2 separate regions of the Homo sapiens genome follow, and region 1 is linked to region 2. Evidence: fine-mapped expression QTL. Tissue or cell type: testis. Region 2 holds a variant in brackets; the other region holds the start of a gene. All regions are shown on one strand. Distances are from middle to middle.

Region 1 (7,222 bases), 280 kb after region 2:
GAGGAAGCTGTAATATAATACAGATGTGACGGGTAGAGGCACAGTAAGAGCAAGTGGTAGAAATGTAGAGGAAGGAGTGGATATAAAAGAAATTTCAAAGGAGAGATCTCTATAACTTTGTCAATGTGATAGATAATTCTAAAATACTGTGTCTAAGTGAATTGAGTGATATAACACCAGCAAAAGAGTTGAGGAGGGCAGTTAGACCATAAGGAAATATGAGACTTTAATTTTGAATATCTTGAGCCCAATAACACATTAAAATACCCTGGTGGAAATTCTCCGGCTCTCCCTGTCATGTGAGGGATTCTGTTTTTCTCTGAGGGATGCACTGGGGATATCGGATCTGGAGATGGCAAAGAGAAATTTAAGACAAATAAAAAACAAGCTAAGTTTGAAAACATCAAGGTCATAGCATAGCCACAGCTAAGATATGCCAGGTGTTCTGGCTGGATATTTGATCTCCCATCATCTTGACTCCATGCTGAGCTAAATGGCCTCCTACACTGATTATATTCAGGTATAGACTTTTCCTTCCACTCATCTACAGCTATCCAGCTTGTAGTCAGTCATTAGAACATGTTAACTTTATGACTTAAAAATGTACAAAAAATACTTATTTTACAGTGGCCTAAGACACTGAAGCCTCCAAATGTATGAAGTAGACACTAGGCCAAAGAGGTATTCTCTGACTGCAATACAAATATTTCTGATATCCTCTTGGCAAAGTTTAACTCATCCTTTAAGAACTAACTCAACAGTTACTGTCTCTATGTAGCCCACCTGACTCCCCACGGCAGTTAGTCTCTTCATTGTCCATGTTCCCATGACCCTTTGTTCTCTTTTATTTTTTTACTACAGCATTTGCCTCTCATTCTGTCAATACATCTGTTTCTCGCCACTAGGCTGGGAGTATCTTGAAGATGGGCACCACTTACTCATCTTCATATTTTTCACTCCCCTAACAGAGTAGGGGGCTACTGGGTGATAGTTCATTGTTGGAAGTATCCAAAAGGGGAATTTTAAAAACATAGATGGAGCAATGTGCAGTTGCTGTAACAAAGCCTGTGTACACATCATATGCCACATCCCTGCTGGCGCCATTAATGCTGCACCAGCAGAGGCAGCGCTCTCATTACATACTGCTGGCCCATATTTGTAATGTGTGACATTTTTTATGAAATACTGTCAAGGGCAATCCATCATATAGTAACCTTTGGATTATATGCTGAGAATGGTCTTAAACATAGACATAAATGAACTTGAAGAATAATGCTATTTTCTAAAAAGAGTATGATCAAAGAGTTCTAGCTAGGAAAATGAGACAGAATGGTAAGTTCTTTTAATTTAAACAGAAGTGCCTTAAAAAGAGGCTTTCTTCTGTCTAGCTCCAGCTGAAGACAGGGTTATTGTGTGAAGATGATTAGGTGACTCTGGAATGTGGCTGAATATTTATTTCTTGTAATACATGAGGTGAAGACTTGAAAAGGGGATGAGGACTTGCTAAAGGCTTGACAACCCTTGGGGCTTCCAAGGTTTTGATAACTTTATCTCAAGATGCATTTCTAAAAATAAAAGAACACATGATGACTTGAGTGAATTTCAGATGTCAACTGTGGACTCACAGTTAAAGGTATTCTCTCTGTGCATCTATTAAGATCTAGGATTTTATACATATTGTAGAGTATAAATTAAAGAAAGCTTCTAAGTCTTATCATTTTTGTGTAAATCCAGCTAAGACTCCTTTGATGAGCTCAGTGTTTGCTGTGAAGGAAAAGCTTATAGGTGAGAGGAACACTAAAATTATAATTCTTTGTCTTCCTTAATTAGACTAGAGCTCACCATAGACCTTGCTGAAACTGTGAGAAAATCCAAGCAATAATTCACACTGTCAGGTCAGCAGAAATGGGAATGCGGGTCTGATATAACTGAAAGATTTGCTTAAGTGATCTATCTATGAACTGAACCGCTCAGAATAGGCACACGATCTTCACTGGAAATGTACCCTCTGAAGATGCTAAACACAAACAGCAATGAAAATAAATCCCAGCAAGAGCCTTATACCACCTTTACAGATGTCATCCTAGAGGAAGGATATAAAGCATATTAATACCAATTGATGTAGGGCACTAATTAATAAGTCCCATTAAATCATGGAGTAATGACATTTAGCATGTAATGAATGCCTCATAATTTCTTCATCATTAATATTTCATAGCATAAGAACACAAGCATTTTCATCCCTGGGCCAGTGCAGCATGGTTTTCTGTCTCTGACATGACCACAAGGGCATTGAGTGGCACGAGTGTATTGCACCTCTGTGGTATAGACTGACTATACCGCACAAGTGATTAACTCTTAGCACCCCGGGTCCTAGCGTTTCCTCATTTTAGAAAATGTGAATCTGCCTGCCATTCTTGGAAGTAACCTCTGTGACTGGAAGATGGAAGAACTGCCCCAGGCTCAGGTGTTGACTTTGGTGTGTAGCATTGCTTTGCTGTTGACCCCCACCCCCCAGCCCAAGAAGGAAACCTGCACAGGAGAAAATCATTACTTTGATTTATTACTGGGGGCTTGCTGTATGCAAAGGCAATAATCACCTCATGGAGCAGGTGCCACTGCCAGGGTTCATTGATTCCAGGCTCTTCTAGAAATTCCAGGAGGCCAGTCAGTCTGGCGGGAGATGGACGTAGTCAACGAAAAAAGAAGTCCATCTCATAGCAGGTTGAAATGAAGTGGGAGAAAAATCTCTGGTCATCGTTCTATCGCTCCACTGACACTCGGTGTCTTTTTCTTTCAGAAGAGGGGCTTGAGCAGAGAGAATGCTTAGAGGCTAAGCGATGGGCAAGTGAGAGGGAAAGAGCCGCGACAGATAGAGCTGGCTGCCTAGGGGTCTCAGAGGCTTCATCCTGCAGGCGGCAGGCGGCAGGACAAAGGGACCTTCGGACTCCAGATCAAGATTCCAAGGAGTTAAACGCTACCACGCAGCCCGACCTGGATGGGATTTGCTCCTGGGTACAAAACGGGACACTGATCAAAATCAACTTGGACAAGTGACAAGAGTGAGTCTTATGTCGGTGGATGTCTTTTAAGGTCGTTGGAGGGAAGAGGACGGGAGGGGTGTGCCGAGGGGTAGGTGGAGAGAGGCACCGAGTCCAGAGCCGGGATATAAATGCACCAGGAGCCGGGGAGCAGAGGAGCAAATGAGTGGGGGAAAGTGTGAGAGGAAGAGTTGGAGAAAAGTCGGGGGAAAGTAGGGACAGGGTTAAGGGGAGAGAGGAGGATGAGGGCGGCGAGGAGAGATTAAAAGGGGAAGGGGGGTCGCTGGAGAGGAGGGCGGACTGTGGATCGGAGGTAGGGAGAGGGGCGAGAGGAGTGCGCGGGGTGGGGGGCGCCGGGGCGAGGAGAGGGGGCTGGGGAAGAGGAGGGGGGCAAGAAAGCGAGAGCGGCGCGGGGGAGGGCTAGGAGCCCGGGGGCCGGGCCGGGGGCGGGCGGGCGGTGGGAGGCGAGATCAGGCCAGGGGAGAGGGAGCGAGCCGGGCCGGGCTCGCAGGGCGAGGAGGCCGTAGGAGGGAGGTGGGGGGCAGGTGGGGGGAAGAGGGAGGGAGCGGGCGGAGAGCTGGGGCCAAGTGCATTGTGTCTGGCGGCGGCGCGCGAGCCCACCGGCGGCTGCGGCGGGGCGGGAAGCCATGGAGCCGCGGGCGCTCGTCACGGCGCTCAGCCTCGGCCTCAGCCTGTGCTCCCTGGGGCTGCTCGTCACGGCCATCTTCACCGACCACTGGTACGAGACCGACCCCCGGCGCCACAAGGAGAGCTGCGAGCGCAGCCGCGCGGGCGCCGACCCCCCGGACCAGAAGAACCGCCTGATGCCGCTGTCGCACCTGCCGCTGCGGGACTCGCCCCCGCTGGGGCGCCGGCTGCTCCCGGGCGGCCCGGGGCGCGCCGACCCCGAGTCCTGGCGCTCGCTCCTGGGGCTCGGCGGGCTGGACGCCGAGTGCGGCCGGCCCCTCTTCGCCACCTACTCGGGCCTCTGGAGGAAGTGCTACTTCCTGGGCATCGACCGGGACATCGACACCCTCATCCTGAAAGGTGAGCGGCGGGCGCACCCCGCGTCCCCGGCGCCCGCGCGTGGAGCGCAGCCCGCGGCTTCCCAGGGGCGCGCCGGTCCCCGCAGCCCCCTCCCAGCCGCGGCCCCGCGCCTGGGCATTCTTGCATCCTTCCCGCCGCCTCCAGTCTTTATCTCTTCCCTTTCTTTCCCCACTGCCTCCCTTCTTCTCCCTCTCCTTGACTCTCTTCTTTCGTCCACATCCTGCGCGTCCTTTCAAGTCCGTGCCGCACCTCCCGCCTCTGTCTCCTTCTTTCCTGCCTTCGCCTCCCATTCCCCGGTTCTCTCTCTCTCCCCGTCCTTCTCTGCCTTTGTACACCTGCCTGACATGTGTGTCTTTTCTTGACGCTGCTCCCCGTGAGGGGGACTAACCGTCAAAGACTCGACTTTTCTCACCCGGGCTCCTTCCTTCAAGTTGTGCTCCTTTTGGAAATACCGTTTGGAAGAAAAGTGGTGCCGACCTCCGAAGAGAGGGAAGGGGCTTTGCCTGTATTGTGCGGATGCTGGTGTCAGACGGAACTGATGTGGTCATCCCAGCCTGGCAGGGCTGATGGGCAGCGAAGGAGGCCCCGGAACCTTCCTTCATACCCCTGAAGTGCAGGGTGTGTGTGGATTAGACTTCAGAGACCAATCGTTGGCTGGTGGAGGCTGGTGGAGGCTGCCCGAGGCAGATAGGACACCTGCTTTCCAACCTTCCTGAGGACCCCATACCCCCACCCTCCTCGCTGTCCAGGCACTGAGGAGAGAAAATGTCCTCGCCCTTTAAACTAGAGCTTTCCAGATTTGGGCACTCACTCTCTGCTTATCACTCTGTCTTCTGTTCGTGGTACCTTGTCAGGTTGTTTTTGTTGTTTGTTTTGTTTGGCACTGAGTTGCAGAGCATCAATTTGTTCTTCTGAAATCTGTGCAACACCTGTCTTCTGTGAATGCTATCAGATAGTTTGATTTTTTTTTTTTTTTTGGTAATCCCATTCACGTAAAAATATTCAGTGTGACAACTTGTGAAGCTTCCTTTAACTTTCAGAACTTGACTCAATGTATTTTTTTCCCCTTTGAGATTAAAAAAAAAAATCAACATCTCTTCTCTTGGACTCATGATGCCAAAAAAGAAAAAGTCCAAAATCAGTACATTTTAATATTTAGTAGCCATGTAGGAAAACAAACAGACGGATTTGTGTTGAGTTACAGCCTGGAATGGAATGACATAGAAAAGAGGGGGTTAATAATGTGTTGGCCTTCAGAGTCTTGCTAGTTGGCGGATTCTTCATTTCTCAAACATGTCAACTTCCTCCTTCCCATGGCTAACTCAGCTGGGGACTGCCATCCAAAATCTGTCTGCGTGTGGAAGGACTCCAGCACTTTTAGGGGAACCAGATACAGTAAAATCTTTTGGGAAGTGCACCATTTTCTTTTCTCTCCTAACTTGCATCCAAATCTGATTTCTCCTCATGAAGATGCTGCATAATTAATTCTGATAGTAGCATAGTACATGAACAAACTGTAAAAGCTGAATGTGGAGGCTCAGTTATGGAGTGCTCATTTAGGCAAGGCAATTTTGAAAGCTAAGCAGTGTAGTCTGTCTTTGGAAATGACAGAACTGCATTTCCTTACACTTTCTATGCTTAGAGTATTTGATTGCATGTAAATTGGATATAGAGCAATGCCTGAAACAGCAGGGCAGAGTCAAACCTACAGTAGAAGAGGGGACCCCCACAGGATATTGCACAATGCCTCTGCAAATGCCCTGGCTAACTGAGGTGCCAGTTCCAGGGCAGTCCAGGGTCAAATAATAGAGGTGGAAGGACTTTAGAGGTCATTGAAGTTGAACATCTACTGGTTGTTCAAATTCCCTTCTACAATCTTTCTGACAAATGGTTGTCTAGCCCAGTACTTCCGTAAGACGGAACTCATATACTCGTTAAAAGAACTAGATTTTCCCAGTCACGAATGCCTATTTTTAGATGAAAACAATCTCAGCTTTATAATATTGATGGTGTTTAGCTAATCTTTTGTGTAGAACACTGAAGAGTTCTAGGTTGTGAACAGAAGATATGGGCCCCATTGCTGGCTCTGTTGCTAAATTGCAGTGTGTTCTCCAAGTATCAAGACCTTCTTCGCCTTCGGTTTCCTTGTCTGTGGTATTATTAGGAGGGATGACTATTCTTTAGAGAAATTTCTAGTTCACATATCTGTCATTGTTATAATTAATAACAATGTAAATTTAGCTTCTTGCAAAGTTAATGAGCCAACGCTATTAAGCAATGAGGAGTTTGGAGGAAAGAACAGGCATTGGTAGATTATAGGATCATAATTTGTTGTTTGGGAGATGTCCAGAAATGCCTTGTAATGTTGCTACTAACCAACCTTGGGCTAGTTACATAATTCTTCTAGATCTCAGTTTCATCATCTGTGAAATGTATGGGTGACAAGAGCAGCTTTAAAATTCTGAGTCTATGAATAATTTGAGAAAAGAAAATGTCACCAACATTTTCCTGGCTCAAAGATGATTTTGGCACCCATATTAGGCAAACATTATCACCTTTGTTTTGGCATCTGACATTAGTGGCTGTGGTATGAATTTCTTAAATGAGCCATTTATAAAACTAGAAATTAACACTGTATCTAATTTTAAAATTTGAGCAACTAGAGTCCCAAGTTCCATTCTTTCTTCTATGAGTTACCTTGTTTATGAGTCTTAGCATCGTTTAGAAATTTTAATGGTAGGAAATGAAAAGTTTATTCAGATGGGAGAGTGGGGAGGGGTGGAAAAAGGGCTCAAGAACTGTCTGGCATGCTTAGTGAGCTTCTGAGAGGCAAAGATGTCAGCATTTTCTTCTCTGGACCTAGAGGGCAAAGCTAGGAGTTGAATGAGGAGTGCAGGGAAGAAAATGTAGAGTTGATAATATGGAAAACATTCTCATAATAGGAATTATTTACATTTCCTATTACTGGAGGCAAGACAAGAGAGATATATTTCTGAGAGATGTACAGGGGATAGAAACATGCAATGTGGGCAATAAGAGATTAATTTAGAAATATGCAAGGCTCTATAATATTAGTCTACTTAAGAGAAATCACTGGAGCTAGAAAAGCATTTATCTCAATGGGACAAGTATTT
Region 2 (7,222 bases):
CTATTCCCCAGAGCCATCCACGCTTTGTTCCAGCTCCCTCCCCTGGCCTAACAGACATCCTTCGAAGCTCAGCTTAGGCTACCACCACTTCCCACAAGCCTTTTCCTGGCCCTGGTCTCACACCTTATTTCAGTATACACGTCCCCCACCACATACTCCCATAGGTTCTGGGTAACCTTTCTAAAATGGAAGTGGACTGGTGAGGAAAATCCTGCAGGTCTAGACCGATCTCGGCTTAGAGGGGCTCTGGGAAAGTACTAACTTTCAAAGCTGTACCAGAATTTAGTTTGATTCAGTGAGCCTTTCAGAGGCCATTCAGATTTGAACTAGTTTTGGAAAGAATTTTTCTGAGATGATTTCACGCAGATTGTGGAATTATCTCCAACTATCAGAAAGGCATTCCTTGAGAGTGAACTGAGGGTTAACAACATATTCAAGCAGCAATCATTAAGAGCCAAAAAATGTGCTAGGTACAATATAAAGTGGGTTAGAAACAGTCATTATCAGTAAAACATCTGACCATCATCTACTATGTATTGAGCCCCTTGGAGTACTCAAACCTTACTATGTAGAAGGGCATGTCCGATGTGAATATGAATACAAGTTCTGAGTGAGAGTTAACAACGTTTAGTCCTGGCTCTGCCAGTAACCAGCAATGGGATCTGAGCAAGTAATTTCCCTTGTGTCTTCTTCCTGACCCCTCTGCCCACAATTTAATAACATGAAGGTGAAGACAGGCTATTTCTAAGGTTCCTTCTAATTCTAAAAGTCAATGTTTATATCAAATAATTTCATTCTAAATCAACAGATTCCAAATACTGAACCAGCTAGTTGGTTATATAAAAATCATATAAAGAGTTTAAATACAAAACAAAACAATAACAAAATACTGCTACAAATTTTGAATTCTAGGTCAAGCGATTAAGAATGGGACCCAGGATTCTGTATCTTAAGCTACTGAGGTACTGCTGATACACAGTCAGGTTTGGGGACCCAGTTTAAAGCACTATGTTACTGACTTTTAGAAAATGTAACCACCAACTTATAAGCCTGAAAAGGTATTACAGGAATGATGGCATGAAGATGTTACCATTTATGCAGAGGTTTGAAAAGATGGCCTGAATTAGGAAAAACATACAAAAGGGATGGGGAAAAGGGCACAGAACGAAAAGCATGAGCAAAGGCTTGGGGACAGAAAACACAGACTATTTTGAGTGTACCAGGCCAGCCAAACCTCAGAGTACTTCCCATACAACTACTCCCTTTCAGAAGAAAATGGATAACCCATGCTCACTGCTGAAGGGATGGCTTCATGTTCGCTTTCCCAAAGTTGATTAGACTAGGTGTATTAGTTTGTTCTCATGCTGCTTTAAGGAATTGCCTGCGACTCGGTAATTTATAAAGGAAAAAGGTTTAATTGACTCACAATTCCGCAGGGTTGGGAAGCCTCAGGAAACTTACAAGCAAGGCAAAAGGGGAAGCAAACATGTCCTCCTTCACGTGGCAACAGGAATGAAAAGTGCCAAGCAAAAGAGGGGAAGCCCCTTATAAAACCATCAGATCTCATGAGAACTCACTATCATGAGAAGAGCAAGACGGTAATCACCGCCATGATTCAATTACCTCCACCAGGTTCCTCTACAACATGTGGGGATTATGAGAACTACAATTAAAGATGAAATTTGGGTGGGGAAACAGCCAAATCATGTCACTAGGTATGTGTCCACTACAAGGGCAACCAATTCATAGGAAAACTAACAGAGTGACATACATCCCTGGTTTACCCAGAGTACTCCTGGTTATGCCTATTGTACCGGTAGAATTATTAATAATTCTACCAGTACAATAAGAGTGCCTGTGTTCACTCTTAAACAACTGAACATTTATTAAATTTGGATGATAAATTATAAGGTTAATATACCAATAAACCCTGAGCTGACATGAAAATAGGAAACAGGGCAAATTCTCTAAAATAGGGATCAGCAAACATGTCTATTTTTGTAAATAAAAGTTTTACTGGTACATAGCCACATGTACATGGCTCATGTCTGTAATTCCAGCACTTTGCGAGGCAAAAGTGGGCAGATCGCTTGAGCCCAGGAGTTCAAGACCAGCCTGGGAAACATGGTGAAACCCTGTCTCTACAAAAAATACAAAAATTAGCTGGGCTTGGTCTTGGTAGCATGTGCCTATAGTCCCAGTTACCCAAGAGGCTGAGGTGGGAGGAGGATCAATTGAGCCCAAGAGATCAAGGCTGCAGTGAGCTATGATCACACCATTGTCCTCAAGCCTGGGCAACAGAGTAAGACCAGTATTAAAAAAAAAAAAAAAATTCAATGGCAGAGTTGAGTAGCTAAGACAGAGGCCATATGGCTCACAAAGCCTGAAGTATTACTATCTGACCCTTTATCGACAACTTGCTGATCCTTGCTTTAAAACAGCACTGTCGGCCGGGCATGGTGGCTCAAGCCGGGCGTCGTGGCTCATGCCTGTAACCTCAGCACTTTGGGAGGCCGAGGTAGGCGGATCACCTGAGGTCAGGAGTTCAAGACCAGCCTGACCAATATGATGAAACACCATCTCTACTAAAAATACAAAAATTAGCTGGGCGCAGTGGCATGTGCCTGTAATCCCAGCTACTCGAGAGGCTGGGACAGGAGAATCGCTTGAACCCGGGAGGCGGAAGTTGCAGTGAGCTGAGATTGCGCCACTGCGCTCCAGCCTGGGTAACAAGAGCAAAACTCCATCTCAAAACAACAACAGCAACAAAACAAAGAAAACCCAGCATTGTCCAAAAGAACTTTCTGCATTGATGGAAATGATCTGTATCTGCAATATCCAATACATTAGCCCCATACCACATGTGCCTATTGATCACTTAAAATGTGGCCAGTGCAAGTGAAAAACTGAATTTTGTTTAATTGTACGTGTGTACAAAATGAAATATTTAAAATTTGGAGTTTTTAATTTTTTTAACTACCAGACAATAAAATGGATTTTTAAAGATACAGTTCTAGTAATTTTAACACATATATTAGATTATGTAACCACCACCACCACCACCATCAGGAAATAAGAAAGTTCCATCACTGCAAAAACTCCAATGGAAGTCATAATCCTCCCTAAACCCTGGAAACACTAACGTGTTCTCTATGACTACAGTTTTTCTTTTTGAGAATGCCATATAAATTCATTCATTATATAACATCTTTAGACTCTTCTTTCACCAAGTTGTTGCATATATCATTAGTTTATTCCTTTTTATTGCTGAGTAGGGTTCCACTGTATGGATTTACCACAGTTCATCCATTTACCAGTTGAAGGGTATCTGGGTTGTTTTCAGTTTTTGGCAAATACGGAAAGAGCTGCTATAAACATTTGTATACAGGGTAGATAAATACCCAGGAGTGTGACTAGGTCATATCATATGGTAGGTATATGTTTAACCTTATAAGAAATTGCCCAACTTTCCAGAGTGACTGTACCATTTTTCATTCCCAGAAGCAACGCATGGTGGGGTTCCACTTGCTTCACATCCTTGCCAAGAGCTGGCATTGTATTTTTTATTTCAGCCATCCTAATAGGTAGGTAAATGCTATTTCATGGTGGTTTTAGTTTGCATTTCCTTGATGACTAATGATGCTCTTAGTCTATTCATGTGCTTACCTGCCATCCTTTGATGAACTGTTTTCCAGTCTTTCATCCATGTTTTTAACTGGAATATTTATTTTCTTACTGAGTTATGAGCGTTCTTCATATATATATATATATATATATATATATATATATATATATATTCTATATATGAGTCCTTTGTCAGATATATGATTTGCAATTTTTTTTTTTTTTTGAGACGAAGTTTCACTCTTATCGCCCAGGCTAGGGTGCAATGGCGCAATCTTGGCTCATTGCAACCTCCGCCTCCCGGGTTCAAGCGATTCTCCAGCCTCAGCCTCCCAAGTAGCTAAGATTACAAGCAACTGCCACCACACCCGGCTAATTTTTTTGTATTTTTAGTAGAGATGAGGTTTCACCATGTTGGTCAGGCTGGTCTCAAACTCCTGACGTCAGGTGATCCACCCGTCTTGGCCTCCCAAAGTGCTGGGATTACAGGCATGAGCCACTGCACCCAGCCAAATGTTTTCTTCCAGTCTGTAACTTATTCTTCATTCTTGTTAACAGTGTTTTTTGCAGAATTTATGAATTGAATTG[T/G]GCTCCCTACCAAATTCATATGTTGAAGTCCCAACCCCCAGCACTTTAGAACATGACTATATTCAGAGGAAGGGCATTTGAAGAGGTAATTAAGGTTAAATAAGTTATATGGGTTGGCCCTAATCCAACAAGACTGATGTCCCTTTAAGAAAAGGAAGAGATACCAGAGATATACATGCACAGTGAAAAGGCCATGTGAAGATGCACCAAGAAGGAGGCCATCTGCAAGCCAAGGAGAGAAGCTTCAGGAGAAACCAACCCTGCTGGCACCTTAACTTTGGACTTCCAGCCTCCAGAACTATGAGAAAATAAATTTCTACTGTTGAAGCCACCCAGTCTGTGGCATTTTGTTATGGCAGCCTTGCCAAACAAATATACAGAGCAAAAGTTTTTATTTTTGATAAAGTCCAATTTATCAATAGTTTCTTTTATGAATTGTGCTTTTGGTATCACATCCAAGATCTTTTTGCTTAACTCCAGGTCACAAATATTTTCTCCTGTGTTTTCTTCTAAAAGTTTTATGTTTTTACATTTAGTTTCATGATACATTTTGAGATCATTTTTGTGTAAGGTGTACAGTTTAAGTTTAGGTACATTTTTTTGCATGTATATGTCCAACTCTTTCTTATCATTTGTGGAAAAGTCAATTTTCCTTTCATTGAACTGACTTCCACCTTTGTCAAAAATGAATTGGCTATATTTGTGTGGATCTATTTCTGGACCCCATGTTGATCTATATTGATCTAGTGATTGTGTGTTTATCTCTTACCTACACTATACAGTCTTGATTAGTGTAATTTTTTTTGTTGTTCTTTTTTTTTTTTTGAGACGGAGTCTCACTCTGTTGCCCAGGCTGGAGTGCAGTGATACAATCTCAGCTCGCTGCAACCTCTGCCTTCTGGGTTCAAATGATTCTCCTGCCTCAGCCTCTTGAGTAGGTGGGACTGCAGGTGTGCCACCACGCCTAGCTAATTTTTGTATTTTCAGTACAGATGGAGTTTTGCCATGTTGGCCAGGCTCATCGCCAACTCCTGACCTCAAGTGATCTACCCACCTTGGCCTCCCAAAGTGCTGGGATGACAGGTATGAGCCACCACCACGCCCGGCCGATTATTGTAGTTTTATAGTAAATTTTAAATTTACAATCACAATAATTTTGTGATTCCTCCAACTTTTACTTTTTCAAAGTTGCTTTGGCAACAAAGGTCCTTTGCCTTTCCATATAAATTTGAGCCAGCTTGTCTGTTTAAAAAAAAAAATCTGCTGTTGGGACTTTTATTTGGAAGTACATTAAATCTATAGATCAATTTGGAAAGAACTGACATATTTACTATGTGGAGTCTTCCAATCCATGAACACTACTGGCAGGTGTCTCTGTTTATTTAGATATTGATATCTTTCATCAGTGCTTTGCAGTTATCAGCATACAGATCCTATACGTAATTTCAATTTTGATTTTAAAAGTCACACGTGGCTAGTGATAACTGCATTAGACAGCACAACTCTAAAATGTTTGAAACTGGAAATACTGAGAAATAGCACCACCATGCAATGTAACTCACTGTGAAACCATGCTATGTGCCAGTGTCACAGCATGCAGGACTTTGGGCATAAAGTGAAGTTTTGAAGAAATAGAAAAGACGCAATGAAGAGACAATCAATAAAGAGCAAATAACCCAACAGATGGACAGAAAAAATTACAAGACCATAAGAAAAGAGCAGATCTCCAAGCTGCCTTGAGTTCCTGACAAGCTTCCAGTTCCGTGTATCATGTATCTTTACAATAGCCTCTCTTTTCTTAAGTTAACTTGAATGGCTCTTTGTTTCTTAAAACCAGATAATTAAAGATCTACATTTCTAGGACTACCTGGTCCTAATAAAAAAAAATTTTAAAAACAGATTGAGGCTATCATTAACTTTCAAAAAATGCACTTAGCAGATAATAATTGGATATAGACATGGAAAATAATCTGTGAGTGATAAAAGAGTACAGACAGTTCCAACATATCAGTAATTTGTATTTCAAAGTTTAATTCTGAATTTTGGAATTCAAAAATGGACCTGTTCCATATCAATAACACTTCTAAATGGTAACTGGCAGACCACACTAATAATATGGATAAAACTTAACAGTAGCACTGAGTTTGGGAAAGCATAAGAGATCAGGTAACCAATTCCAACTTTGCACTATAGAAGCAATAGCAGCAGCATTTCTAGCCCAAAGGTGCTCAGACCCCAATGTGCGTAAACACCTTCCAAGATTTCACTTTTGGAAATAAGTTAGACTAGATATAAAATATCCTTCCATTACAAATATCTAGAAATAGCAGACAAGATACAACAAACACTCTTTTACGTGCACTGAACTCACAAGCAAATAAATTCACAGGTGGCACAAAGAGATGTAGTATAAACAGCTTTAAAAAATCTGTTAAATGTATTTACTGAATAAAATCAGAGCTGTAAACAAAAGCTCAAGCCATGGCCTTAGATTAAACTTGGAATCTAGGGACTTCAGTTTTGATTTTTATTAGATGTGGTGAAAGCTGAAATTGGGACCACTGCATAAAACCAGCAATGCCCTTGAAGAGTCACACCGCACAGGTAGGTTGGGGAAAAGGGCTCTATCCACAACAGGCAATTTGTTCAAATCAGGCCTTCACTAGAATCAAAATATCTTCCCTGGAAATCCATAATCACAAGTCTGTCCCCAGTAGAGCATAGGGTTAAAATTTACACTGATTTTGAGGGCCAGGAGCCTCAAGTCAAGAAATAAATTTAAGTTGTTTCTGGGTTGGTGGTAACACAAGGCACCTGGCAGAGGGAGAAACAAATTATCTGTAGATAAACACATCTTCAACCCATACTCCAGGAAATTACCACATAATATTATTAGGCAGATATGAGCTTAAAACAAAATTATCAAGCATAAAAGGAAACAAACCACCAGAGCAGTAAAAACTATGAAAAACCAAATCAAATCCATAGAAGTTAAATTTTAGGAATTAAA

The links. PIP is the estimated chance that this variant, and not a neighbour inherited with it, causes the effect.
Region 1: TMEM178A starts here. The variant in region 2 is the best candidate, but not a certain one, in a credible set for the expression of TMEM178A in testis (GTEx, PIP 0.86).

Annotation. Positions count from the first base shown.
Region 1 is chr2:39,662,287-39,669,508 of GRCh38, forward strand. TMEM178A (transmembrane protein 178A) reads left to right here and starts at 3,631. Exons shown (of 4, transcript NM_152390.3): 1 at 3,631-4,088. The coding sequence starts at 3,689.
Region 2 is chr2:39,381,797-39,389,018 of GRCh38, forward strand. The region is part of intron 1 of MAP4K3 (mitogen-activated protein kinase kinase kinase kinase 3); the gene reads right to left. Among named protein-coding and RNA genes, the nearest start is that of MAP4K3, 52 kb to the right of the region's middle. The variant T/G (reference allele first, on the strand shown) is at 4,213.